7 linked regions of the Homo sapiens genome follow. The protein of the gene in region 2 purifies or fractionates together with the protein of the main gene of each other region. This does not show direct contact. Each region holds a gene or a part of one and is shown on either strand. Other genes may lie near its edges. The genes, in order: RAB11A, SLC13A2, RAB14, AMFR, GDA, PTTG1IP and ADPGK.

Region 1 (2,999 bases), on a different chromosome or scaffold from region 2:
AGGCTAATTGTGTTAATTTGACACATTTTTAGAATTATCTTGCTTTTTGAGAGTAGTGTTTTTGGAGGGACAACTGGGAGAGTAAACAAAAATAAGGTACATTCTCTGTTCTTAAGGACTTTATAATCTAGTCACAGGGAACAACTTTTAGGCAGTGCAGTATAAGACCAAACGTGTTACATACAGATACTTATTGTGGAGGAATTTAGTGACATTCATGCGGTTATTTATTTATCACAACACATGTTATATGTTGCAGTACAGCAGTAAGACAGACACAGTTTTGATCCTTACAGAGTTTAACACTTAGTAAAAGAGGCAGACACTAAATTATTTTTGATAAGTGTCATGAAATAAAAATAGAGTTTACATATAACATCTTAAGTTGCCTATTTTGTATCATTCTTTAATTACAATTTAAGTTTTGTTCAGGAGGTCACTGATAAACACATTATCTTTTTTTCCCTTCCAAGAATCGTTTGGGATTTTAGCATGTTTGTTAAGATGTACTCTGCCGAATGCGTCTGATAGTGCAAATTTATTTATTTTTTGTGTGGTACAATGTCATTGTGTGTAGGCAATTTTTGTTTGTTTGTTTGTTTTTTGGGGTAAAGGTAGACTGAAAATACTCTTATGGTTTACTTTGAATCTAAGTCCATAAACAATGTAATGCTATTGGCTTACCTCTTTTTTTTTTTTTTGAGACCGAGTCTTGCTCTGTTGTCTAGGCTGGAGTGCAGTGGCACGATCTCATCTCACGACAACCTCCGCCTCCCGGGTTCAAGTGATTCTCCTGCCTCAGCCTCCCGAGTAGCTGGGATTACAGGCACCCACCATCATGCTTGGCTAATTTTTGTATTTTTGTAGAGACAGGGTTTCACCATGTTGGTCAGGCTGGTCTTGAACTCCTGACCTCAGGTGATCTGCCTGGCCTGGTTTACCTCTTTAAACAAAGATTTATTTGACTGGTGAACCTTTCCCTCTGACATGGAAAAACCTTTGTTTCTTTTCTTACCCAAAGGGCAATTGTTAAAATAAAGGGTTGAATCTAATCAGTGGCTGTTTGAAAATAAAACTTTAAATTTATGTATTCTCTGTTCAGTTTCCTTAGGGACTTTGATGCAAATATATCTCCTACCTTTATGTATCTTTTATCCTAACTATGATAGGTTTATTCACACTAAGTATTGTGGTTTCTTTTTTCCTTCAGAGATTTACCGCATTGTTTCTCAGAAGCAAATGTCAGACAGACGCGAAAATGACATGTCTCCAAGCAACAATGTGGTTCCTATTCATGTTCCACCAACCACTGAAAACAAGCCAAAGGTGCAGTGCTGTCAGAACATCTAAGGCATTTCTCTTCTCCCCTAGAAGGCTGTGTATAGTCCATTTCCCAGGTCTGAGATTTAAATATATTTGTAATTCTTGTGTCACTTTTGTGTTTTATTACTTCATACTTATGAATTTTTCCATGTCCTAAGTCTTTTGATTTTAGCTTTATAAAATCATCCACTTGTCCCGAATGACTGCAGCTTTTTTTCATGCTATGGCTTCACTAGCCTTAGTTTAATAAACTGAATGTTTGGATTCCTCAGTTATTGTTTACTTTTCATCATGGAAGCCTGTCACTGTATGTAGGACATAATAGAACTTGATCACTTGAAGCTCAGACCTATTGGTCTTGATCAAATCAAACTAAGAAGACCTTAGAAATAAGCTACCATTTTGCCACAGAGCAGCTTATAGGTAATACACTCTTCTCTCAGTGCAGTGTACATTTCCACAAATCTAAGAATTGCCCTATAAACATAGCAGGATTTTGAGAGCTTGAAAATTTTCCATTATTCTGGACATGAATTTCTAAAATGCCTTAATAGGTTTATGTAGTTGAGTAAATTTTGTTTTTTAATTTTTGTAAGCATCAAAGTTGATTAGAGAGGGGGGCACTTTTTCTGGAGAATTCTCTTAGTAAACACAAAAGATTGTTACGGTTTCATTAGTAGTATGGTTGTGGGGCCATAAGTTAAACAGTGCTGCCTGGTAGGCTGGGAACTGAAGAGACTTGTGGTATTCCATCTCGGGTGCCTCTGTTGGCAATGATCAGGCAGCCCAAAAGATTTAAATGATCTATAATAATTTCCAAGCGGTAGATTATGTGGCATTTTATTGCTCAGGCAATAATTGGTTTAATGCTGGTAGTGTCAAATTTTGAAGTGTTAATTTTGTCTTAGAACCTTCCAGTAAGTGAAATACAACCTAGTTTTATCACCATATCCACCAGCAGGCATGGATAATTATTTTAACAATGCTAATATTTGAGTTTTGCAGTATATTATAGAATATAGTCCAGTTAAATCTTTGGTTTCAGTATGTCTGAAGAGTACAGTGAGAGGTTAATTTCTGCTCAAGTGGTACCACTTAAAGGCATGTATTCTTTTAGTATGTAAAATGAAATAGTACCTTGAGTTTAAATAGAATGCATTTAGGCATTGTAGAGATCTGAAATAGTTTTCTTCCACTACATTGTTGAAATCAATGAAGCAATTAGTTTCTCATTCAGAAATGTGCACACTAATATTTAGTTTTGCTTTCTCGTGGATAATATTAAGCACTTACTCTGCAGTTTCCTGGAAGTTGTGTCAACTGCAGTGATACTATTCAGGATGGTGGGAAATCCCCAAAAATATGTATGTGTGGGCTTGCTTAGATTACTATATTTCATAGTTAATCTTTTGTCTCTTGCGGTGCTCATGATGTGTGGGGCACACGGAAGGCATTGCTGTAGTCAGTCATTTTGGTTTTCTTCTATAGCCATTTTATTATTTTAGTGTATTAGTTATGAAGATAATATTATCTATTTGTAAATTGCTACTTTGTATTTTATGCATGCTCTGTAATTTGATTTTTTTTTAGTTATTGATTTGGATTATATTCACATTCTAATAAACAGTTATAGGGGGATTATTTCTTATGCTGTCAGATTACATTTTTCCTTTGAG
Region 2 (4,330 bases):
TGGGACCGGTTTTTCCAGCTGGAGGAAGGGTCGATGAGGAATTGGCAGGGGCAGAGGGTTTTATGTAAATACCCAGGGAGTGCTCTGGGAACGGGGAAGCTGGTTTTCCCAAAGACACGCAGGGACTGGCAGCTCCCAATTAGCCAGGCCCAGTGATGTCAGTGCTGCTCTCCTAGGTGGCTGCGCCCACTCTGATGGGCCTTGGCAGGGATGCCCGGCCATTACCTTCCCCCCTGGGTGGGAGGGGTGCCAAGGGGGCTGCATATAGGACAAAGGCCAGGCCCCCTCCTTCTGGACTCCCCCAACCTGGGGTCTGAACCACATTGGGGACTAGCCCTGGAGAGTGCCATGAAAAACCATCCCAGACTTTACTGAAAAAGACTTTAATGTGACTTTAACAGCCCAGAGGCTGTTCCCGTGGCAGCTGCTGGCAGGCCCTCCTCCCAGGCCACTCCAAGCCTGAATTTCAATAAATACAGTGCAAGTAAGTCTGGTCACTAAGCTGGGGATACCAAGACCTGGGGCACCAGAGAGGGCATGTTGTATTGTCTGTGAACACACACGTGTGCACTGTCCAACATACATACCTAGGATCATGTGCATGCACACAGCCCCCCTCAGATAGCCTCACGTCACACACCCCTCACATCCATGCAGGCGCACACATATGCGCACACACACATGCACACACCTTTTATTCCAGCACATAGGAAACTGAGCATACACCCCTTCCTTACAGACACGCAAGAGATTATGTACACACGTGCCTTTCAGCCTTTGGCCTGGAGCTTGGAGCTTGGAGCTTGGGGTGTCCCCTCCGGGCTCAGAGGAGTGGGAATGGGGTGGGTCTTCCTGGGCATGGCCAGGCTGTGCCCCAGCCTAGGGGCTTGGTGTGGTGGTGTTGGCCAGGCTTGGCAGGCACTGGGCTGTGGTGTTGGACTGTGCCCAGGAGGGGAAAGAGTGCAGGCTGAAGAGGGGGATGCCCCAGCTGTTGATGGCCAGTGCGATGATCAGGACTCCAATGATGTTGAGGAGGAATCCTGCCCGGGCCTGGTGTGAGGAGAGTCCATTTGGCTAAGCAGGGACTGGGCTGGACTGCCCCCAAGTCCCCAGGTGTTTGGGGGTGCACAGGAGCCCTCCTACCAGCAAAATTCTCTCTGGGAAGTCCTCCCGTTGGTCTAACCTGCAGCATAGCCAATGCCTTTGCCCCTTGCTTTACTCCCTGTGCTAACAGGGGAAAGGGGCGCTCCTCCTGAGCTTCCAGGGCCCTGGGCTTGTTCTCTCTGAGCTCATCTCCCTGAGTGTGGGTGCCTGGCACCTTGGAGCCTTCCCCATGTTCCCCACCCACTTCCCTCCCTCTCACATAGCCTGGGGCTGGCAGGGCCTGAAGATGCCACCACTGAGAGGTCATGTCCCAACCTCCCCAACTGCACCTTCATTCCAGATGAGGACCCGCTCAACTCTGAGACTCTCAGTGGCTTTAAGCTGCTTTGTGGTTCACTAAGATGAAAAGTCAGAGCAGGAAGGAGGGATGAGGCATTCAGGCCTCCCTGCCACTTACCATATCCAACACTTTGAGGTCCCCGAAAGAGAAGACGATGGCATTGGGCGGGGTGGCCACAGGCAACATGAAGGCCAGGGAGGTGGCCAGAGTGCAGGGGAGCATGACGTAGAGAGGGTGGAGGCAGATGGCCTGGGCCTGGAGTGGGAGGCAGTGGCGCAGAGCTGAACTTGGTCCCCAAGCCAGAGGGAGGGGCATGGCCCCCAATTCTCCTGCTTCTCTGGGGAACAACCCCTGTACCCTAATACACTCTCTGGTCATGAGCCCACCTCTTCTCCCAGAAGGCACTGGGTGACCTGGAAGGGCCTCTTGACCTCTCTGGAGGGAATGAGTGTGCTGCCCTGCCTTGTGGGGTGTGGTGAGGGGAGGGGCCCATAAAACTGATCTCAAAGGGGCTCCGGGGGTGTCATCAAAGGCTGCAGGAACACGCCTGGGGAGGAAGGGGCTTGGGACGCTTCGGGGAGCAATTTCACCCCGTCACCTCAGGAATGACCAGAACAGGGACTGGGGTGGGGAGGTGGGTGAGGCCACCAGGATCCCCATCAGGATACTCCAGGGGTGACATCATGAGGGACGGGGTGAGTCAGGGGCCAAAGCGCCTTGGGGCCCAAGGTGGCTCAAGAGCCTGGAGAAGGATGGAAACTCAGGGGTCCTCTTCAGGAAAAGGAAAAGAGGAGGTGCAAAGACAGGATACTCTGCCCAGCAGGCAGAACCCCTGGTGGGGCAGGCAGGCGGGCTGCCTGGAGGAGGTGTTTCTGAGGGCCAGCTCACCATGGAGGCTAGGATGGGCAGGAAGATCGTAGTGGTGGCCACGTTGCTAGTGCACTCGGTGAAGGTGGCCACCAGGAGGGAGAGGATGATGGCAATGGCTGGAGCTGGCACACTCTGCAGTGGGGTCAGCTTGTTTCCCAGCCACTCTGACAGGCCCGATCGCTGTGGGCAGAGGAGGATGGCATGTGAGAGGCAAGGCTGCCTGGGCCCCCAAGTCTTCTGCCGAGGCTCTATGAGGCTCCTGCTCCTGCTAACATCTCCCTGGTATTCAGAGTCAAAGACAGCTCTAAAGGGATGATAGGACCCAGCTAAGACCAAGGGGTGCCCTTTCCTGCTCTTGAAGAACAGCTGGGTGTGGGAAGAAGGGGCAGATGAGAAATTAGGAGGGGGCCAAAGGGCCTTCTTGGGAAATTTGGGGCTTGGTGGGAGCAAAAATCTTTGACCGCACTGACTCCTGCCTTCCTGACCTCTCTCAGGAGGTCCCTGGACAACCTTAGCCCTCTTCCTGCCCCTTCCAGTCCAGTGGCTTGGGGCAGAGGGAACCTTGCTCCTGGCAGGGAGGGAAAGTTGGGGGAGGACCCTGACAGAGGCTGCAAGAGGCTAATGGGAGGACAGGGACAGTCCACAGGGTCAGAAGAGCTCCGAGGTCTTGCCTTCCCACGTCTGGAATGCCAGGCTGTAAGGTGGGACTTAATCTCGCTCAGTGGGGCCAGCGCCTAGCACAGGACTGGGCACAGTCAGTGGATGAACATGCCACAGACCCAGGAGTCCCCTGCACCGATCCCTGACCTGGGCAGCCACCTTCTGTTTGAGCCAGAACACGGAGGCCCAGGGATGCCGTGTCAGGGATTTCCCTCTTTTGGATGGAGGCTCTGGGGAAAGATGTTCTGGTCCCCAGAGCCTGGGTGGGTGTGATCATGGTGCCCCCTGGTGGCTGCGGAGGGCAGACCGCGTCAACACAACCCCCAATTACTTTGGTGCTGATGCTACTGTGTGCTCTGGCAGCGGGCAAAGGGCTGGGGTGGGATGGCATTTGTCTCTGAGAACAGGCTCTGCCCACCAGAGAATCCTGCCTTCCCTTGGACTTTGAGAACTGAACAAAGAGGTCCCTAGGGCTTGTGTTTCTTCCTCCCACATGAGGGCTCTAACCTAAGTCTTCCCAGCTGCTGCAAAGGCTCTGCCTACCCGAGAGGCTCCTACGTGGGGACCAGGTCTCCCCTCTGTGGGACAGAAGCAGGGCCCCCTCTCTCCCTGCCACAGAGACACCCTCACACAGGCTGAGGAGGGGGCTGGGGGCCTCTCACCTCACTGCCCTTGGCCAGGGCATAGCCACCACCCAGCAATAACACGATATTCCACGGCATCTTCTGGTTCACCGTCTTCCAGTCGAGGAGGCCAAGAGGGGCCTTCAGCTTCCCTGGGTTTTCTACTTCCCAAGCAGAGAAGGATGGGTCACCAAAGAACAAACAGGCCTTTCCCCTCTCCATTTGCGGGCTCCCTGTGTGGGTCCCTTTTGGAGCTTAACGCGTGCAGGAGGGGACCCTCAGTTCTGCAACATCTCAACTTTGTCTCCGAGTCCCTGTGCCCTTGGCAAGTCGCTCCAGCCTTTCTGGGCTTTGCCTACTCCTGCCAAGTGTGGTGGAAGGTACATTACATACTTGAAGGCAGGGGCTGCCCGGAGACCCTTCCCTGCCCCAGTCCAGGTGCTTACCTGGGTCCTGGGTCAGCCCTGGGAACTTGGAGGGTATGATGAACATAATTATGCCGATGAAGATGGCCACTGTCCCATCGGACACCATGCTGTTGGTGGAGGGGGCGCGGGGAGGGCTGGGTTAGCCGCTTGGGGTTGCTCAGGGCCACAGGGTGGAGGGTGGTGGAGATGAGCCTCTCCCATAGACAAGCCTGGGGAACCTTCATCCCCCACCAAGTGTTACCTCCTGTTCTGCAATGGGGGCCCTATACCCTTCCCTCCTTCCCGAGCATGTGAGCCCCAGATGT
Region 3 (4,330 bases), on a different chromosome or scaffold from region 2:
CTTCTGGGTTCAAGCAAGCCTCCCACGTAAGTCTCCCAAAGCACTACTGGGATTACAGGCATGAGCCACCACACCTGGCTAACATATACTACTTATTATACAATGACAAGTTATATATGTCTAAGCCAATTAACAAATTTATTAGTCCTTTCCTTATAATGAGGCCACTTAAAACCTAAACCCACCATTCTCCAGTACAAGGACACAGACTTCTGGGCACTTCATAAAATGTTACATCAAACCTCTGTGGTAAGCAGCACAAAAATGTCAAAGAAATAATTTCAACTATACAGAAACACTTTCAACTATATTTAGCATATCAGTTACAACACATTGGTCCCTTCTATCACCCAAGAAAGAGTAGAAAGAATTCCATTTTAAGTATTTCAAATCTGTTATTTAACAAATGATACATGCAGCAAATTTCTCCTAATAAGACAATCAATTCCTGTAACAGAAAGTCAGAGAATAAAAAGATTAAGTTTGACATTATTTTATGTATTTTTAAAAATTATTTTAACATCAAGAAATCAAAACAAGCAAATCAGATTATATAATGTGTATAAAAATCAACCCTAAAATATGCTGGCATATTTCATTTTATCTGTACCCATTTAAAAAAAGTACAAATATAGGGAAAGGTTATATTTAAATGCATGAAGTATACTGAAAATGACACTTTCTAAAAAGTAGAAACATGGCGATAAAGAAAACTATTAATGTTTACCTCATGTATTGAACTTACATTTTTTTTCTGTAAATTGATGAAGCAAGCAAGATTTTCCTACTCCCATGTCCCCTGTTTAAAAAAAAAGAAGTTTCAGGTGGCAATTACATTTCTCAATTTTATGCAATGATCGCTATATTCCTTACCATATAACATATCACAAGTTTCTGGGACACTTAACAAATTTTTATTTTCCTACTTTATAATGATTCAAAAGTTTTCACTGTGAGACACAAATGGAATATTATTCCCAATCTTTAGCAGTGACAGAATTTGGCTGTAAATTATTACTGTTAATAAATAGCCACCAGCTGGGAAGTGCTTATTTTTTTAATGGAATTTTTTTTACTTTGAGCTGTTTCAAAATTTTATGTTTTTGTTTTCTTTTGTTTTTTTCCTTAAACTCATGCATAAAAGCAACAAATTTCAAAAACTGACAAATGGGGTAGCATGTAACAAGCAGAAATAACAAACTGAGTTCTGGAAGCTTGATTCACTAGGTCCCTGTCTTATACTTCTTGTATTATTCTATGAAAGAAAAGAATTTGCATTACATGAAAACCCCAGGAGAAAAGATGTCATCTCTGACTGTACTATAGCAATGTTAACCCTTGATGAAGGAAACATTAGAAAGGACACATTAAGTTCAACATGAAAGCAAACTGTTCTAATGTGAACAATTCATTGAAAAACGTGTACTTTCAAATGTAGTTTTATGTTTGGATAAATAGCATTAAGACTTAATTTGAGCAAAACCTTCTTGAAACTTAAGGAAAAAAACACCAATTAAGAAAAATACTATATTTTATATATATTACACAATTGATTTGGAATCAAACAATATTCTCTACCAATTTTTCCTTATAACAGAAACCCAGGGGAATCTGAGAGCTTTCACAGTATTTTAGGAATGTTTCTGCACTCCTTGAAACACTGATACTTCCTAGCATCAAAAAGCTTTCAAGCAGCCCTCAAGAACAATGAACATCACTTCACAAGGTACCCACCAGCACTGTACCACAGAAATATCCATGGCCACAATGCAAAAGCTGCATTGCTAATGCAAAAATAAATCTTATAAAAGGAGTTTTAGTTTTACAGTAAGAAAATCACTCAGTCCTGAAGTGGTACTGTTTAAGTATTAACATATAAATATTTTGTATGTTAACCTTCTTTTGGGAACAAGAGTGTAAGTTAAATAAACTTACCAATAATAATATATTTAAAGATGTAAGAGTAGTTGTATGGTGCAGTTGCCATGGTGGCACTAAAAACAAAGAAATCTCTGTTACTTCAGAAGGAAAGCATATACAAGTAATTCAAACGGATGACTGATATCCTTTAAAGGTAGAAAAGGACACTGAATACAAACAAATGTTGGTTACAGTAAGTCAAAATAAAACTGCATTTCACAAACTGATCAAATACACAAATTCTCTTGGATGAATGATGCTTACACATTCTCATGTGCTATCCACAGAAATATAAGAAACCATTTATACCACAACTCCAATATTTCACTTAATATCCACTAGAACTTAAAAGTATAATTTAAAAAAAATCCAATAAGTATTAATCTGAAAATTGTCAAACAAAAAAATCTTTATAAATTTAAGTTAAACATCACTATAGTCTCTTCTCCCCTTAAAGTCCCCTTCCCTGTTAACTGATCAAGTAAGTTACTAATGATCTACTTGTTCAGAACTCTGATATTAAACAGAATGGTATATAAAGGAACCACTTAATTTATAAACACAAAACAACGTTTTTACTCTACTTTAAATCAACAGTTAGCAGCGCAAAGAGCAATCGTATGATTTCCAAATCAATGTTGGAACTAGACTGAATCACATGAAACTGTTCTTCCTATAGATTTTTCAAGTCAAAGTTTATTGGCATTTTCATATAGCTCAACCTAATACAGGACTTGCAGATTATCACTCACACACACACACACACACACACACACACACACACATTTTTTGAAGACCAGGCTGGTCTTGGGTCTTGAACTCCTGGCCTTAAGCGTCCCTCCCATCTCAGTCTCCCAAAGTGCTAGGATTACAGGCATGAGCCACTGTGCCCAGCCAGATTAACAACATAGTAAGTGCTTCCCATACACTATTCTAGGGACTGAAAGAAATAATGTCATAAAATTGTACTTATGGTTGCAAAATTTGAAAGCTTGTGTATTAGAAGATATTTCAAAAGATCACAGCCCATTTCTTACCCTCAAATAGACTTAACCTAAAGAATTCTAATTTCTCTTCTACTTAAAAAGAAAACAAAAAACTTTCCAATTTATTCAAATGAATTATCTGAATGTGTAAGACACGTGCTAGGTCCTAGAGAGAAACAAGGGGCTGAACTGTAAAACTGGTAATAACTTTCAATAAAGTTTATTCTCAAACCAGCTTTCAGCTTAAGACAAAAATTATTTATACATATAAAGATTTCACCCATTTAAAAAAATCTGACTTACAGTATTTTTAAGCCTGGCTTTTAGTGTTTCTGTCAATGTCACATTACACAAGCCAGACATTTAATATGACTGGAGAAATTTATTTACTGAAATTATCACCTTACTATATACCATATTTCAAGCAAAAGTTCTATATAACAACATTGAACCCGTAGAAAGAATATATATTTAAAACAAGTGTATTATTATAAGGGAAGAGGAAGTTGTTAATTACAGTAAAGTATTAATCACTTCCACACACTACAGTCTTCTCACTTAGCTATCTGTATTACATTTAGTGAAAGTAGAAGCCTTGTTACCCATTCCAGTTTGGCATGTTCTAACACATTTATAATCAGTCTCCTGCATCACAGAAAACTCCCTTAACCAGTTCTTTCAGGAAAGGGAGTTTTTCTAGTTAGATTAACTGATTCTGAACATCACAACAACTTTATTCCCTTTTCCAGGCACTAGGAACTCAAAACTTTTAAGAATGAACTTGGTCCTGAGACTAAAACTGGTCTGGATTATTTACCTGATCTCTGAACCAGATGCCAAACACAAGGGGGAAAAGTAATCTCTTACATTAAAAATATTTAAAGATTATTAACTTCTTAACTTGAATTCTTCCGACTCTTCTAATCAATTTTTAATTCTTCTAAATTCTTTCCCCATTCAAACCTGGGTAAAAGTAATCACTTAGTCACCTTCAAATTACTGTCTCTTCTGTGCTCTTCTCCCTTGATTTTCCTAATTTCTTTCCCTCTTCTAACTAAAGGTTGTAGCTGTACATACTTTGCTCCTTCTATTTTATGTTAAAGCTATGACTTCTAACAATCCCAAATTTCTACTTCAAATGCTTTAAAGACTATCATAAAATTGTGACCCAATTTTAGTTGTACTAATTTGTGTACCTGCTAATTATCATACATTCATTAAATGTGAGATAACTAATTTTGAAAATGTATCTTAAAATTACAAACATTCATATAGTAGAAACTATTTCCAAATAAAAGAAATGATCACTATTTCGGATTTAATACCAGGGCTCTGTCTCACCACACCACACATTTTTCTTGCTCGTTTCTTTAAAAATTACAAATAAAAACCATAAAAGCAGAATTAAAGGAAAACTACTCAAA
Region 4 (3,500 bases), on a different chromosome or scaffold from region 2:
CAATTGTGCTAGCCCTAATAGACTAGGAATGCCAATTTCAGAGAGGAGGACTAGAGCAAGATTGAGAAAGAAACAGAACAGAACAGGCACTGTCCTGAGTCCTGTTGAAGGTGAGAGGAGAGAGTTGTATACCCTCGGAACATTGCTTCTAGAGGTTTATAATCCCAGTGCTAGGAGGATCTTTGAGAGTAAGGGATGAAAATATAATGCATATTGTTATACTCAGTAAATTAAATGACACGGATCTCTAAATATCACCTCATGCTCATATTTGGGTTATTGGAGAATAGGACCATATAGTAATGGGATGCTTTTCTGTGCTTAGCACAGAACCCTAAGCAGAGAAGCCAAGATTGACCTTGAATTTCTCAGTGAAGTTTAACACTTCCATGAAGAAGAATGAGCAGTTTCCTACTGTGTGCATTTCAGCTTTCCTTCTCGCCCACCACGCCGATGAGCAGCCACGGTCGAGTCCTGTCCCTGTTGGTTGCCATGCTGCTTTCCTGCTGTGGACTGGCGGCCGTCTGCTCCATCACCGGCTACACCCACGGAATGCACACCTTGGCTTTCATGGCTGCAGAGGTGAGATACTGGATGCAGGACTTGCTCAGATTGTATTTCTGTCTGTTTTCAAGGAAGCTGGATGTTTGACAAGTTATTTTCACCCATGAAATGACAGGTGGATATTTGGTCTTTCATTTTAACAAGCATTTCAGTTCCTTTTTGTGTGTTGGGTACTGGTACTGAATGCTTTTGTGTGGTATTTTATGTAACTCTTTCTTTACGTAGGGTATAAAGATTTTACAAAATAATGAATAAACTGTACTCATCATTTTGAAGGAAAAATCTGGTCTATTCATGAATATTTTAAGATTTAAAAATTTTTCACTCTTTTAAACCTTTCTGAAAATACCAATTTCTGTTCAGTAGAAATAAAAATTCTCCAGCCTGGCCAATATGGTGAAACCCTGTCTCTACTAAAAATACAAAAAAAAAATTAGTTGGGCGTGGTGGCGCACGTCTGTAGTCCCACCTGCTTGGGAAGCTGAGGCAGGAGAATTGCTTGAACCCGGGAGGCGGAGGTTGCAGTGAGCAGACATTGCGCCACTGCACTCCAGCCTGGGTGACAGAGCGAGACTCCATCTCAAAAAAAAAAAGAAATAAAAATTGTTTGTATGTCCTTATATTTAATGGCTATATTTGCCTTTTCTTCAGGCCAAAGGCAAAATACTTTTATCTTACCCATAATTAGTATTATTAATTAAAAAATGAGATATTAGATAAACTGAAGCTAATTGGCTAATATCAAAACACTACATTTGAACTACTCATTGGGAATTTGGTAGAGCAGAGTTAAAGTTTATTTCTGTTTGATAGCATTCATTTTTGAGTACATTTAGTAGTGTAAGTAAAATTAGAAAAGAAACATTTAAATACATAATGTTAATTATCATATTATAATATTGTAATTAAAATACAATAGTCCTAATATAAATAATAAGATATGTAATCTTAGGTGAATACTTCTGTATATGAAAAATATACAACCGTATTTCGTCTTGACAGAAAATCTGTTGAAAAATCCATTTACACTGACTTATTTGCTTTAGATTTATTGCAAAGTTAGAATGATACTTATGTTTGCCTTTTTTTGATTCTCTAACTTTCAACTAATATAATATTATCCAAACTTTGAAAAGGGTATACCTAAAAATAAGCACATTTAACTTAGGCCCGTCAGCTCATACTATAGTATATACTTTTATTTTAGCTTGTTACTGTTTATTCTTTTAAGATAATTTATCATATTACAGATTTGATATTTTAAACTAAATCATTTCTTACATTCATAGTGTTTCTCTCTCCTGTAAAATATTTTTCACTTACAAATGGGAATTTAATCTAAAACATAAATAATGTAATAGTTTTATTCTACTAGATTAAGAGGACTTTTTTTCTTAATGAAAAATATCTTTTTTTTTTTTTTTTTTTTGAGACAAGGTGTCACTCTGTTGCCCGGGCTGGAGTGCAGTTGCTTACTGCAACTTCCACCTTGTGGGCTCAAGTGATCCTCTCATTTCCTTAGTAGCTGGGACCACAGGCATGAACCACCATGCCTGGCTAATTTTTGATTTTTTTGTAGAGATGGGGTTTTGCCATGTTACCAGGCTGGTCTTGAACTCCTGAGATCAAGCAGTCGGCCTGCCTCGACCTCCCAAAGTGCTGGGATTACAGGTGTGAGCCACTGTACCTGGCCGTCAATTTCTGTAATAAAAAAAATACCCTTCAAGACCAGCCTAGCCAACATAGCAAGACCTTGTCTCTACAAAAAAAAAAAAAAAAGCCATGAGAGACTTATTTTGTCCCTCTCCTCTCCTCCCCTCTCCTCTCTCCTCTCCTCTCTCCTCTCCTCTCTCCCCTCTCCCCCCTCCCCTCCCCCCTCTCCCCCTCTCCCCCCTCTCCCCCCTCCCCCTCCTCTCTCTCCCCTCTCCTCCCCTCCCCCCTCCCCTCTCCCCTCTCCCCTTCCACTTCTTCCCCTTCCCCTTCCCTTCTGACAGGGTCTGGGGTCTGGCTCTCTCACCCAGGCTGGAGTGCTGTGGTGCGATCTCTGCTTACTGCAGCCTCCACCTCCCAGGTTCAATCCATCCTTCCACCTCTGCCTCCCAAGTAGCTGGGACTACTGGCACGTGCCACCATGCCCACCTAATTTTTGTATTTTTTGTAGAGATGGGGTTTCACCATGTTGCCCAGGCTGGTTTTGAACTCCTAAGCTTGAGCAATCCTCCTGCCTCGGTCTCCCAAAGTGCTGGGATTAAAGGTGTGATGTGGCTGGCCTTATTTTGCTTTTGATTGCTTTCGTTCTTTTTTCTGCTGGTGGACAAAGGGAGTGCACAAAGCACTAGGGAGAGAGCAGGTCCTCGTGTCTAGGATAGCAGTACCTGAACTATACTTGGAGTTACAGCATCACCCTTCTAAGTAATCAGTGATAGTGACTTAATGCTGTGTGAAATAGAATTGATGGTCAGACTACCAGGGTAAACCTCAAGATTGTAGGGGGATTCCTGGGGGGTAGGTGTAATTGGTTGTCACCTATTAACAGGACTTTTCCTCAATAAAAGTTGGGTTTCTAGGTCATAAAAATATTTTACAGAAATTTGAAGCAGAGAAAATAAAATAATGGGTAAACTTGAACAATCTGCTTTTTAATTGAACTGAGAAATGTTTGTCTTTTATCATTTTATAAAAAGTTTGGCCTGAGCAATGCTACATTTTACTAAAAAGAAAATATCCTTTTTTATAGTCTCTTCTTGTGACAGTGAGGACTGCTCATGTGATTTTACGGTGAGTGAAATTGGGGAGGGAGGTGATGGAGGCCTACTCATACAGTTGATTTTAAGATGTAGCAGGTATGAAATATATAAAAATCGGACTAAATTACAACATGGTTAAACCAAATTCAGTAGTAACAGTAAATTACTAAGGTGTTTTCTCTCTTCATT
Region 5 (4,330 bases), on a different chromosome or scaffold from region 2:
TGGGACTACAGGCGCCCACCACTACGCTTGGTTAATTTTTTGTATTTTTAGTAGAGACAGGGTTTCACCATGTTAGCCAGGATGGTCTCAATCTCCCGACCTCATGATCCGCCCGCCTCGGCCTCCGAAAGTGCCAGGATTACAGGCATTAACCACCGCGCCTGGCCATACTATTCTTAACTGAAACAATGCCAATATTATCTGTGAGGAATTTTACGCAGTCTTACTAGCAGCTCTCAGCACTAGAACCTAGTCCTCATCAAAGGTGCTGGAAGAATTCTATTTCAGCAAGAAAGCTGAGGCTATATGGGACAATGGTAATTGTTTTTACAGTGTCTCCATCTCTGTCATAAGAGATTTTTAAAAACCTTTCTGCCTCTCTCCTTCCCCTGTAATTCATTTAGATAACTGGCCATTAGATTAATCTTCCTTAAAATACCACTTTCATCACATCACTCACACCTGGACTCAGAACCTTTTTTGAGTCTTTGGTGCATATTTGAGCTCTTCTACAATGTGAACCCTCCCATCTGCCTACCCTCTTCTCCCACTGCCCCCAGGCGATGAATCCACTCCTCTAGTTAAACTACTGTGGTCCCTGCATCCACTATTGACACTCCTGTTCCCATACCTGTGTCCTTCCCCTATCTAGAAGACAGTTTGTCCTCTCCTCATCTTGTCTTTACTTCAAAGCCCAGTTTAAAGGACCCTTTCATAAAGCCTTCCCAGATGTCGTAGTTCTGGGTTCTCTTTGCCTTCTCTGAAGACTGTAGTATCTATTTTCAGAGTCACCCATTAGGTCAGGTCTTTTGCATAAGCAAACAGTGGCATCAGTGTATCAGCCAACAGTATTTACTGAGCACCTGCTATGTGCCAGGTACTGTGCTGGGTACAAGTTTTGGAATCATCAACCCGAATCCAGAATCAGCTCTTCTTACTAGCTGTGCAACCCTGGGCATGTTACTTATCCTCTCTGAGCGTCAGTCTAACCATCTGTAACATGAGGACATCAGTAACCACTTCAGAAGGCTGTTTGCTGCTGAACTAATTCTTCCAGAGTGCTTTGCACAATGCTAGACGTCTAGTAACAGCACCATAGTTGTTACTAAGGTTAGTGATCAATGGTGTAGGTATTCTGTCTGGCTTCTCAAGGGCAGAGACTATTTTTTATCTCATTGCGTTTCCAGCATCTAGCACAGTGCCCTGACTCTAGCCAATAGCCACCATGTATCTGCTGATATAAGAAACTATTACCACAACTAGAATTAGTAAAGTTTCCCTAAAAAGCCCTAAATTAATACACAAAATTCAGACTCATATATATCATTCTGTAACCAAAAATTGTAAGTAAATAATCAGAGTACTTAGAAAATAGAAAACACTCTATGATACAGTTTTCTATTTTCTAAGTACTTTAGAAAATTTCCTAAGGGCCACAGTGACATATAGACACGTAATTACTTGCAAAAAATGTAATGCTCATGTTCTAGCAATTAAAAGGCAGGTCTGCCCAAAAGTACATATAAGTTGTTTGCCACGATGGTCTGGCTGTCTTTGCTTGAGGTGCCCATAAATCATGCTTCATTTGCTCACCTGTAATGTCGGCAAGGAGCAGAGATGAGTCAGTGTGAATTGTTGCAAAGTAACAAGCTGTGGTTGTTCCATTCTTTAGTGTTCTCCTCTAAAAATAAATCACAAAAACCGCGAATCACGTGTGCTCAGAAAAGTCACATGGTACATCCAGAGGAAAACAGAATTTTAGTTTTTAATTTTAAAATGTTTTTATTTAAAGGTATGCCATCTTGATGTAGAGTACAGTTAGGTAAATGGCAAAAGGTATTTATATTCCAAAAGTTAGCTGGAGGAGAAGCTGATACTTCTGATTTTTTCTCGATTCACACAGTTCTGTGCTTCAGAATTCATTAAAATGTGATACTAATGAATTCCTTCTTTCTTAGGATTGTTTAAGGATATCCAAATTTTATTGCATCTGGGAGTACATAAATAAGTTTTTCTTCTACTACAGAATAAAAATATTCAGCCAGACTTTAGCTCAACCTGGAAGGTTAATCACATATATCTATCTCCTTTCCTTCGCAAACTACAACAAACATGACAGTAAAGGAGTACAAACGTTATTAACCCACAAGAAGAACATGAGAGGAGAGACATGAGCAGAGAAAACATTTCAATATCTTCTTGGAAGACAAAAAACATGGACGAGAACCTGGAAGCAACTTGGAAAGAAGGAGAGAAGTGTGTGGGTTTTAGCAGGGGACTGGCTGGAAGTCTATGCAGGTATGATTAAACCCTGGCAGGAACCTTGTTGAAATCAGCCAACCACCCTTAACTTCTTCCTTATAAGAGAGATTTACTCTTTATAGAACCTGGATAGTATTTAGAGGGTACAAGCTCCAAAAGAGAAGGTAAAGCAGAGGTTTAAGTGAAAATCTGGCTGACCTCAAGGGCACTCAGTCATTTTCCCCAGAATACCACGTGTACTACTCCCACAACTCCTGGCAGGGGACTAAACGATTATTTTCTAGAGAAAATGAATGGCTCTAAAAGAAAGATGTCTTCACAGTGACGTTTGGGACCCAAATTCACTGCCTTCACTACTCATCCTATAATGAAGTTACCATCAACAAGTGATACCTCCACCCAGAAATTCCAGTCAGCACCTTATAGCATCACAGTATGAATGTATGTCCAGGGTTTGATAGGCATTGGAGGGAATCTATTATCAAAAAGATAAGGAGGGGGAGAAAGAATCTGGAAAAAATCTTAGAGGAAACATAATCTATAAGGTCAGAAAAAAGCTCAGTTAAAAAAAACAACTATGACTCACATCCTCAAAGAAATAAAACACACTATTGCACCCACAAAACAAGAACAGAATGCTATGAAAATCAGAATGCAGGAGCTCTCCAAAAGTAAAAATATTATAAATGAAATGTGGAAGCCAGTAGGAGGGTTGTAGGATAAATTACAAGAGAATTGCTCAGGAAAAGGAAAAGATGAAAATCAAAGGTGAGAACATAAGAAAATTAGGCTCAATCTAGGCAATCCAACATTTAGAATAAGAAATCTAAATTTTTTTAAATAAATGGAAGGGACAAAAATATGAAAAATAATATTCATCTCCAAAATTAAAATCCTCATAGAATTGTCAGCACAGGGAATAAAAAGAGAACCCAAAGTAAGGCATATAATTGTGAGATATTAAGTTCGTAAGTACAGAAAAGATGCTAAAAACTCCAGGAAAAAAAAAAAAACTGGTCACAGATAAATGACAGGACTCACAACGACATTGGATTTCTCACTAACAATGCTGGAAGCAGAACAATGCCTTCAAATTCAACTCATATATATCATTCTGTAACCAAAAATCCTAAGTAAATAATTAAAGTACTTAGAAAATAGAAAACGCTCTATTATATAGGTTTCTATTTTCTAAGTACTTTAGAAAATTTTCTAAGGGCCACAGTGATACACAGACAATTAAGTACTTGCAAAAAATGCAATGCTCATGTTCTAGCAATTAAAAAGGAGGTCTTCCCACAAGTACATATAAGTTGTTTGTCACAACAGGAGTTATTTTTAACATATAATTTTATACCTTGGTAAATTATCAATCAAGTGTGAAGGTAGCATAGAAATATGATTAAGTACCGAAGGACTTGAAAATTTTACTCTCCATGAACTCTTTCTTAGGAAGCTTTTAGAAACTGTCTTTTAGTAAAACACAAGAGTAATCCAAAGTAATTCCTGGATCCAGGGAGTGGGCATTAAACGCAGGAAAGAGGCAAAGAGAATGCCAAGATTACAGTAGTGCTACAGAGAATGCTGACCAGAAACAAGAGAATGGGAGGAGGTGAGAAGATCTTCAAGAAAGAAAATGGAACGGATATTGCCTGACCTGTCTGAGCACTTGGAAAAAGGACTAGTGGATTGAATACTTTGGGGCATATCTTTAGCAGAAGCTTTTAAATGCAGAGGAAAACCCTCCAGACAGTGGCTCTTGCTTACGTTTTGCCTGTTATTAGCTACGTGACCTTGAGAAGGTTGCTTACATTCCATGTTTCCTCCTTTGTGAAAAAACAGGGTTTTCTTGACTAGTACAGACATCAGAAGCTCAAGTGTCTGCAGGATTGAAATAGTTTGGAGTTAGGATAATAGAAATGAACATGCCGTACCTTAGACAGTAGCCTCTAATTAGATCCAGTGTGTTCCATTTTTTGTTGTTGTTGTTATTTTGGGTTTTGTTTTTTGAGACAGGGTCTTGCTCTGGAGTGCAGAGGTGCCATCACACATCACAGCTCACTGTAAC
Region 6 (4,330 bases), on a different chromosome or scaffold from region 2:
ACACACATCACACATGAAGGTGCACACACACCACCACCACCCCCTGCCAGACATCCCACACTACAACCACCACCACCACACAAACTTTTGAATTCTCTAGGGCCTCAACACCAGCAACAAGTTGTTTCAGATGGAGGCTGATAGATTTTGAAATGGAAATCAATTAGAAGAGTGGTAAGTAAGACGTAAGTTGCAGAGGGATCCAAGATGCAAATAAACAAAAAGAATCATCAAAACACCTTAAGAAAATATTGCTTCTTTACAAAGTTTAGGAACCCTATGTATTACCCCAAAACCTGAAGCCTAAAAGATTAATAAATTCAACTACATAATAATGAGTTCTAGGTTACAAAACACACCACAAACTGATTTAAAAGGCAAACTACGGGGCTGGGCGCAGTGGCTCACGCCTGTAATCCCAGCACTTTGGGAGGCTGAGGTGGGCAGATCATGAGGTCAGGAGATCGAGACCATCCTGGCTAACACAGTGAAACCCCGTCTCTACTAAAAAATACAAGAAATTAGCCGGACGTGGTGGCGGGCACCTGTAGTCCCAGCTACTCAGGAGGCTGAGGCAGGAGAATGGCGTGAACCTGGGAGGCGGAGCTTGCAGTGAGCCAAGATAGTGCCATTGCACTCCAGCCCGTCTCAAAAATAAATAAATAAATAAATAAAGGCAAACTAGAAAACAACTTGAATCTCACAAGAGCTGATTTCCTTAATTTAAAAACGCCTCCAAAATCAAATATACAAAGATACGCACACAAAAAAAGAGGGCTGTCTACGCAAGCAGGGATTCTTAAGCTGGGAAAACTGGAGATTCTAGGGGAATTCACAGGTGAGTTTCAGGGGTGACACATGAACAAAACATACTGAGCAGAGAAGTCAAACACGTTGCCTTCAAACTCACCCTTTTCCCCACACCTTCTGTAACGTGGTGAGATAGAGCTCAGTGCTGGGGCTGACCACCTTGAAGGAGGTCCTCCAGGTTCCCCAGGGCTGCTTTCCCGGTCAGCAGATCACCCCTGGCTTCCCAACCTCTCCCTGGGAGTCACAGAGCTACTGGCAGCACATTTTCTAGCAACTTCTGCTAACTGAGCACATAATACTATTTTCTTTTTTTTTTGAGACAGTCTCGCTCTGTCGCCAGGCTGGAGTGCAGTGGCACGATCTCGGCTCACTGCAAACTCCGCCTCCCGGGTTCAAGCAATTCTCCTGTCTCAGCCTCCCAAGTAGCTGGGATTACAAGTGCATGCCACCACGCCCACCTAATTTTTGTATTTTTAATAGAGACGGGGCTTCACCATGTTAGCCAGGATGGTCTCAATCTCCTGACCTCTTGATCCACCCGCCTCCGCCTCCCAAAGTGCTGGGATTACAGACGTGAGCCACCGCGCCCGGCCCATACTACTATTTTCAAAGAAGCATCGATTTTGCAAGCAGCAAATGAAAACAATGACTTACCCCAACAAACTCCCCAGCGTGCAGAGCTCAATTTACAAAGGGAAGCCGGTGGCAAGACGCTTGTAACTGGGTAGTCCAGACAAGCCTTGTTAGTGTTGCACCAAAGACACTGAAAGAGACCAACATTAAGCAAGCATTAGAAACAACAGAAAAACCAAAGAACTGTCCAGGCTCTGCCCACAGCCCGCCAGTGCTGCCATCGCTCTGTGGATGGCTGTAAAGGCTCAACCTCCCCCTCAACGCCTCATCTCTGCCTTCACCCTCAGCGCCCTTCGGTCCACACCCAGCACAGCGGCCAGCAGCCCTGTCAGCTCTCCACGGACTCATCCAAGGCCCGCGTCACTCAGGCCTCTTCCACAACTCACCCTGCTGAGGCCACGGGGCCTCTGTGTTGGCAGCCTCCTGAGTGCTGCCAACCCCACCTCATGCTCTCAGCCTCAGCTCAGCCTGCCGGTTCTGCCTGGAGCACTCTCCCCACATCTGTGTGGCTCCCCACTGACTGGATGGGCCCTGCCTCGATCAACAGACTGGACACAACCAGCCGCCTCCACCCCCTCCTCCTCACCTCCTGTGAGGTTTGCTTCCGTAGACCTCTCCTCCCCACACGCCGGGCACCTGTGCACTTCACTGGCTGAAGTCTCCCAAGAACACAGGACACAGCCTGGCCCATCACAGGCACTCACTGAGTTTGTGTTGAATGGACTTGGGTGAGCATGGTCACCATCTGTAGCAAGGACCATGCTTCCTACCTCTGACCTTCACAACTGCACTAAGTCGCACAGCTTGAAAGATGATGCAACTACGGCTCAGCCCGCCCTAAACTGACAGCTGGAGAGAACCTCATAGACGCTCTTGTCTGAGCCCCTTGAACGTCAGGTGTGAGGCCGCAGTGGTGTGGAGACAACACCATCACACCCGTGTGTGTGTGTGTAAGAGCCCAGAGCTGGGCCCAGCCCATGCCACAGCAGTACACAACGAGGCCCGAAAGCGGTCTGTGAGCCAGGCACTGAGCGTGACAGGGGACAGCCTAGCACGCAGGCAGATGGCACAGGAAGGGGTGAAAGAACTGCTGTTCGGGTCAGGCACGGTGGCTCACGCCTGTAATCCCAGCACTTTGGGAGGCCAGGAGGGCGGATCACCTGAGGTCAGAAGTTCGGGATCAGCCTGACCAACATGGAGAAACCCCATCTTTGTTAAAAATACAAAATAAGCCGGGCGTGGTGGCACATGCCTGTAATCCCAGCTACTCCAGAGGCTGAGGCAGGAGAATCGCTTGAGCCCAGGAGGCGCAGGTTGCGGTGAGCCGAGATCGCACCATTGCACTCCAGCCTGGGCAACAAGAGTGAAACTCCGTCTCAAAAGGAAAAAAAAAAGAACTGCCGTTCGGCAGCACCTCATGCGCCAGCCCAAGTCCAGACCCAAGTCCAGACTGCCTGTTACTCCCAATCTCCACATTAACAGTGTTACTGACTTTTTAATAGGATAGAAAGTCATGGCGTTTTTGGCCCAGGTTAGGGCAAAAGTCTATTACAAAAAAATATTAATTACAATGTCCCCTGGGCCTTCTTTCCCAGGGCTACTTATACAGTGACCACCTTAGTGTCGTGTTTAAGTGGTTTCCAGCATAATGTAACAATTAACAGTTAAACCCTGTTTATTCTGGTCATTTGGGAGTATCTTCCATTTCAGGGGTTTTGCTTGCAATTAACGATTTTTGGCTAATCCTCCCTTTTCAAGTGGCTCAAGTTGTAAATGTCTGATTTTCCATTTTTCCATGACAGTGGTACCATGAGCCACAGGACTGCACTGGGAGGATACGGTGTTCTCTGGTGGTTGTGCTGCTTTTCTGATCGATGAAGTAATATGCACATAGCAAGCAGCTCAGGCAGCAGCACAGACACACAGCCCGCCACGGCCTCGGCAACACAGAGACACACAGCCCGCCACGGCCTCAGCAGCACAGAGACACAGCCCACCACGGCCTCAGCAGCAGAGACACAGCCCACCACGGCCTCAGCAGCAGAGACACAGCCCACCACGGCCTCAGCAGCAGAGACACAGCCCACCACGGCCTCAGCAGCAGAGACACAGCCCGCCACGGCCTCGGCAACACAGAGACACACAGCCCGCCACGGCCTCAGGAGCGTGGACACAGCCCACCATAGCCACTGCTCCAACACGCAGGTCCTCTTGAGACCTCCCAGGCACTGACACCTCCTTCCAGAAACCTCCTGTGTGCCCAAGAGCACACCCACACACGCCTGGAGCTACTGTAGGGCAAGCGGCCCTCTTCACCGCCCTGTCTGGGTTCAGAACTGGAGTCAGGCCTTCAGCCCTTCTGGACTGGCCCCATCCACAATGACCTGGGCAAGTCCCTCAGCCGCCTCATCCACGAGATGGCTGTCATCACCACACCCTGCCCAGGGTGGTGAGGGTTACACAGGGTACTATGGCAAAAACGCACTCTAGGCTACAAAGCCACATACAATAGTGAGCTATGTTTAAAGCTGAAATGACTTCCAATAGAAAAATCCAGAGACTAAAAAGAAGCACCATCTAGAAAATGCACCAGGACCAGGCGCATTAGAGCAGGTTCAACATCACCAATGTCAAGATCTGAAACCACAGAAACAGCGTCTTTCAATTTTTAATCAGCAAATGCAAGTATCCACTTAAGTCCCACAAACTGACAGGGTGTGTCTCGAACCTACGCTACGGTCTCGTGGAGGAAGAAGAGTTTTTAAGAACATGGCTCATGCCTTAGAATAGAAATCATCGAATACATCTTTCCCGGCCTCCTCAAACCTACGCTACGGTCTCGTGGAGGAAGAAGAGTTTTTAAGAACATGGCTCATGCCTTAGAATA
Region 7 (4,330 bases), on a different chromosome or scaffold from region 2:
AGTTTTGTTTTGTTTTGTTTTGTTTTTGAGATGGAGTCTTGCTCTGTTGCCCAGGCTGGAGTACCATGGCACGATCTCAGCTCACTGCAACCTCCACCTCCCGGGTTCAAGCGATTCTCCTGCCTCAGCCTCCCAAGTAGCTGGGATTACAGGTGTCCACCACCACACCCAGCTAATTTTTGTGTTTTCATTAGAGATGGAGTTTCACCATCTTGGCCAGGCTGGTCTCAAACTCCTGACCTCATGATCCACCTGCCTCGGTCTCCCAAAGTGCTGGGATTACAGGCTTGAGGGTGTTTATAGTTTTTGAAGTAGTTATTTTCAAAGACAGGTTTCCCTCCATTTCTGAACCTTTACTCTTCAGACTCGGGACCCAAATCCATTTGGATACAATTTTTTTAGACTGGGCTGTCTGGAGGAAATGGTATCCCTCCTTACTCAAGCCCTCACTGTCTGAAACTTAGGAACCTACTGGCGTCTGAGAGCTACAGATACTTGTATTCCTGTTGATTCTACCAATCTAATGTTGCATTCATTAGAAATAAAGGGCACCATGTCTGAGGTAAAATTGAGACCAGTTTGCAAGGTGTGTTTGGTTTCTTAACATTGAAGGTTGTGAAAGGAAAGATTTTAAACATATCTTTAAGCAACTGCCACGTGCATGTCCAGAATGGCCCCTTCTGTGTGTGTCATGGAGAAGTTCTGGCTTATATTTTCAGTGTTTCTTTACTAGAAATCATCCCTCTTTTAAAGAGAAGGGCCAAATACAGTAGCTAGATGTTTTATGCACTGAAAGGCATAGTAAATCTTAGGTTATGCTTCTCCAGTTGACCAGAGTCATTATGTGTGTCTTGAACAAGAAACTGAGTATTTAAATGCTATTTGATAGGCAAAACTCCTTTCAAAACATGAATCCCTAGGGGAAGAATTAATAAAAAGGACCCTTATAATGAGGATGCAGTCTCTTTGTGTCTTGAGGGAGGATGTCTCTTCCTTGCCCTTGTAAATCTTCCTTAAGTGATGTAAATAATATCTAGTCTGCATACAAACCTTTTTAAAGTTATGTCATTTTAAAAATTCTAAAAGGAATACAAGCATGTTAAAAGTAGAAATATACCTGGTAAAATTCCTCTTCATCCCAGTCTCATTCCTCTTCATTTTTGAAAGAGACTAAAAGGGAAATACAACTATGTATTTTACACCAAAATCTCATCCATTGGGACATTTTTATTAATGAGTTTACCTTGTGGTTTCAGAGCTGCTCAGAATTAACTCTGAAGCCCAGTCACCCGTATCACTAGGGGTGGTCTCAGTTTGCCGGCTGGGAGCTGCCTGTGTGGTAATCCAACCTCACTGGCCAGAATGACATCCCAATAGGCAGAGGCAGGAATAAAGATGACCATGATAGGGGTAGGGGCGGGAAGACCTCATCTAGCTACCTTAATTATTTGAACGTTCTCTTTAAAAGAGGGATGACTTAGCAAAGAAACCCTGAAAATGTAAGACAGACTTTCTCCATACACACATAGGAGAGGTCATGCCAGACAACCTTAGTACAAGTTGAGCATCCAGAATGCTCTGAAATCCAAAACTCTGGGGCACTGACATGATGCCACTGATGTATATTAAGTACTTATATGTGAAAATTCCACCCACACGTAAGGAATAGAAACTTTATTTCATGCACAAAAGTATTTAAAACATTGTATAAAGTTACCTTCAGGCTGTATGTATAAAGTATATATGAAATGTGTTTGGACTTGGGTTGCATTCCCAAGATATCTCATGTATATGTAAATATTCCAAAATCGGAAACACTCTGATCTCAAGCACTTCAGATAAGGGATTCAACCTGTACTTTATAATTTCCATCGAGACAACCAGGAGTGGCAGGTCTTTAACGTTCATGGGTCAGTCCTGTGAACACTGGCCAAAGGGTGAGTTCTTAAAATGCTGCAGGTGTGCCTAAGTCTGTAAAACACCACTAAATTCTAAGAGGCAGGGTTTCAGCTGGGAGTACTCAGGCATTTAGGAATTTATTGTATCTTACCATCCTCATTTGTTTTTAGAGGGAAGATGCCTGATACCTAGCCTTTGACTGAAACACATATTTTGCTTACTCTGCGCCAATTGCTGTTCCTAAGTATACATTCACTTATTTAATCTTAACCATAGCTCTATGAGTTAAATGCTCATATTATTGCCATTTTGTGGATGAGGAAACCGAGGCACAGAGAAATTAGTGACTTGCCCAAGTCACACGGCCAGCATGAATCCTGTTTGGCTCTGCCAGCGTTTTTCTCAGAAATGTTACATTTTTGTTACAGTAGCTTTGTTCTGAAATGCTAAGCACCTATCTTCTCACTTTGTAACTAGTGTAAAAGTTTGCCAAATTATTGAAGAGTCCTGTGTTCTGATGCTAATACATAAATCCAGTTAAAGTAATTTTTCTCCTGCCATGTGCTGTTTACTTCCCAATTCAGGTTTCAGACCTACTTCCTGTTTTTTCTGTTGAATAAGGTTCTGAGAAACATTTTCCTTTTGTTAAATGCAAAATGGCTACTTGGTGCTTCTGCTGCTTTCACACAGTTTTTTTCCTCCTTCTAGAGTCAATGCATGTGTTGATGTGGTGCTCTCAGGGGTGAAGCTCTTGCAGGCACTTGGCCTTAGTCCTGGGAATGGGAAAGATCACAGCATTCTGCATTCAAGGAATGATCTGGAAGAAGCCTTCATTCACTTCATGGGGAAGGGAGCAGCTGCTGAGCGCTTCTTCAGTGATAAGGAAACTTTTCACGACATTGCCCAGGTTGCATCAGAGTTCCCAGGAGCCCAGGTCTGTTTGGTTCAGCAATAGTAAATTAAGGGTGGAAAAAGATGCCTTTTTAATATGGTTCCTAGAAGCAAGCAAGCAACTTTTCATTCCAGTTTGAAGAGGAGGGGAGCAAAATCACCCCTGGTTGAAAACTGTGGGTCTAGGTTGATGGTTCTCAGACTTGAGCATGTGTCAGAATCATTTGGAGAGGCTGTTGAAACACAGATTTCTGGGCCTACTACCAGAGTTCAGATTCAGTAGATGTGGGATGGGACCCAAGAATTTACCTTTCCAGCAAGTTTCCTGGTTGATCCTGTAGGTCTGAGAACCTCCTTTTGAGAACCACTGGTCTGCAAGGTAGAACCTGTCGAAGTTAGAACCTTAGTGGTTTCCAAGTTCACCTGGTGATTATATACAAAGCCCTGCATGGTCCAGGCACTTCCTGGAGGTTCACGTGGAATAAGAGGCAGTGCTGGGGCTGGAGACCCAACCATGGCTCTTCCTACCTCACCCCAGTATGCCTGCTCCTACATGTACCCTCATGCCTCTTGAGGCTGAGTTTTGGTTGGTTGGTTATCTCCCATGTCTTGCCCCCACCCCATTCTTCCTCCTCATTTAAACCTCCCTTTGGCTGGGCACCCAGTCTGGTTTGGTAGTTCTAGCCAGGGAAGCTCTTAATGCCATTTTTAATTGGCACCTTTCACAGGCAAACCTTTGTGACTACTTTTATTTTGATGACTTAAGATTTTAGGCCGGGCACAGTGGCTCACGCCTGTAATCCCAGCACTTTGGGAGGCTGAGGCAGGTGGATTGCTTGAGCCCAGGAGTTTGAGACCAGCCTGGGCAACATGGTGAAACCCTGTCTCTACAAAAAATACAAAAAATTAGCTGGGCATGGTGGCATGTGCCTGTGGGAGGATCACCTGAGCCCGGGAGGTCAAGGCTGCAGTGAACCATGACCGTGCCACTTCACTCCAGTCTGGGCAACAGGGTGTGACCCTGTCTCAAAAAAATTTTAAAAATAAGTTTTTTGTCTTCGAAGCTGCCTATTTGAACATTAGAAATGGACATAGGCATTACCTAGCTGAGTTTCTAAAGGTGACAGCAAGTTAAGATTTCAGTTATCATTTTGACAACTGGGATCAGTAGTGAGATTCTTATCTCTTATGAGAGAATCTCGATAGTTCTAACATGATGAGTTCACTGCTCAAAAGTCTTTATGATTACGGAATTTAAACCACCAGTTTGATTTCTCTTCTCTCTTGATTCTGCCTTTATTTCTTGATGAAAAAAATTTTTACAGCAACTTGATCTAGCTTTGTGATGGTCCAGGTTATTTCTTAACATTGTAAAACCCCTTTCACTAGAGGAGTGCCTTTTCATACTTCCTTATAGTTTAAGGCAGGTTGATAAACATTATATGAAAATTCTGAAATCCACTTTGTAGATATCTTACTATTTTCCCAAGATTTTTTTTAGTAAATTCTAACTATCGTGGTTGAATAAAACATTAAGGCT

The links.
Region 1: the proteins of SLC13A2 (region 2) and RAB11A purify together in Homo sapiens (affinity purification with mass spectrometry; one large-scale study listed by BioGRID and IntAct). This does not show direct contact.
Region 3: the proteins of SLC13A2 (region 2) and RAB14 purify together in Homo sapiens (affinity purification with mass spectrometry; one large-scale study listed by BioGRID and IntAct). This does not show direct contact.
Region 4: the proteins of SLC13A2 (region 2) and AMFR purify together in Homo sapiens (affinity purification with mass spectrometry; one large-scale study listed by BioGRID and IntAct). This does not show direct contact.
Region 5: the proteins of SLC13A2 (region 2) and GDA purify together in Homo sapiens (affinity purification with mass spectrometry; one large-scale study listed by BioGRID and IntAct). This does not show direct contact.
Region 6: the proteins of SLC13A2 (region 2) and PTTG1IP purify together in Homo sapiens (affinity purification with mass spectrometry; one large-scale study listed by BioGRID and IntAct). This does not show direct contact.
Region 7: the proteins of SLC13A2 (region 2) and ADPGK purify together in Homo sapiens (affinity purification with mass spectrometry; one large-scale study listed by BioGRID and IntAct). This does not show direct contact.

What each region holds. Positions count from the first base shown.
Region 1 is NC_000015.10:65,886,491-65,889,489, forward strand, and holds part of RAB11A (ras-related protein Rab-11A), read left to right. Parts: intron 1-1,210; coding exon 1,211-1,350; 3' UTR 1,351-2,999. UniProt on the Homo sapiens protein: The small GTPases Rab are key regulators of intracellular membrane trafficking, from the formation of transport vesicles to their fusion with membranes.
Region 2 is NC_000017.11:28,493,819-28,498,148, reverse strand, and holds the end of SLC13A2 (solute carrier family 13 member 2), read right to left. Parts: intron 4,133-4,330; coding exon 4,044-4,132; intron 3,959-4,043; coding exon of another isoform or gene 3,876-3,958; exon of another isoform or gene 3,776-3,875; intron 3,762-3,775; coding exon of another isoform or gene 3,759-3,761; coding exon 3,637-3,758; intron 2,495-3,636; coding exon 2,333-2,494; intron 1,700-2,332; coding exon 1,562-1,699; intron 1,051-1,561; coding exon 880-1,050; 3' UTR 368-879; downstream 1-367. UniProt on the Homo sapiens protein: Low-affinity sodium-dicarboxylate cotransporter, that mediates the entry of citric acid cycle intermediates, such as succinate, citrate, fumarate and alpha-ketoglutarate (2-oxoglutarate) into the small intestine and renal proximal tubule.
Region 3 is NC_000009.12:121,191,426-121,195,755, forward strand, and holds part of RAB14 (ras-related protein Rab-14), read right to left. Parts: intron 1,995-4,330; 5' UTR 1,988-1,994; coding exon 1,936-1,987; intron 800-1,935; coding exon 746-799; intron 1-745.
Region 4 is NC_000016.10:56,405,046-56,408,545, reverse strand, and holds part of AMFR (E3 ubiquitin-protein ligase AMFR), read left to right. Parts: intron 1-429; coding exon 430-582; intron 583-3,301; coding exon 3,302-3,342; intron 3,343-3,500. UniProt on the Homo sapiens protein: E3 ubiquitin-protein ligase that mediates the polyubiquitination of lysine and cysteine residues on target proteins, such as CD3D, CYP3A4, CFTR, INSIG1, SOAT2/ACAT2 and APOB for proteasomal degradation.
Region 5 is NC_000009.12:72,208,038-72,212,367, reverse strand, and holds part of GDA (guanine deaminase), read right to left. Parts: intron 4,307-4,330; exon of another isoform or gene 4,197-4,306; intron 4,144-4,196; coding exon of another isoform or gene 4,030-4,143; intron 1,682-4,029; coding exon 1,594-1,681; intron 1-1,593. UniProt on the Homo sapiens protein: Catalyzes the hydrolytic deamination of guanine, producing xanthine and ammonia.
Region 6 is NC_000021.9:44,859,699-44,864,028, forward strand, and holds part of PTTG1IP (pituitary tumor-transforming gene 1 protein-interacting protein isoform 1 precursor), read right to left. Parts: exon of another isoform or gene 4,270-4,330; intron 4,172-4,269; exon of another isoform or gene 4,095-4,171; intron 1,574-4,094; coding exon 1,465-1,573; intron 1-1,464. UniProt on the Homo sapiens protein: May facilitate PTTG1 nuclear translocation.
Region 7 is NC_000015.10:72,773,375-72,777,704, reverse strand, and holds part of ADPGK (ADP-dependent glucokinase isoform 4 precursor), read left to right. Parts: intron 1-2,607; coding exon 2,608-2,833; intron 2,834-4,330. UniProt on the Homo sapiens protein: Catalyzes the phosphorylation of D-glucose to D-glucose 6-phosphate using ADP as the phosphate donor. GDP and CDP can replace ADP, but with reduced efficiency.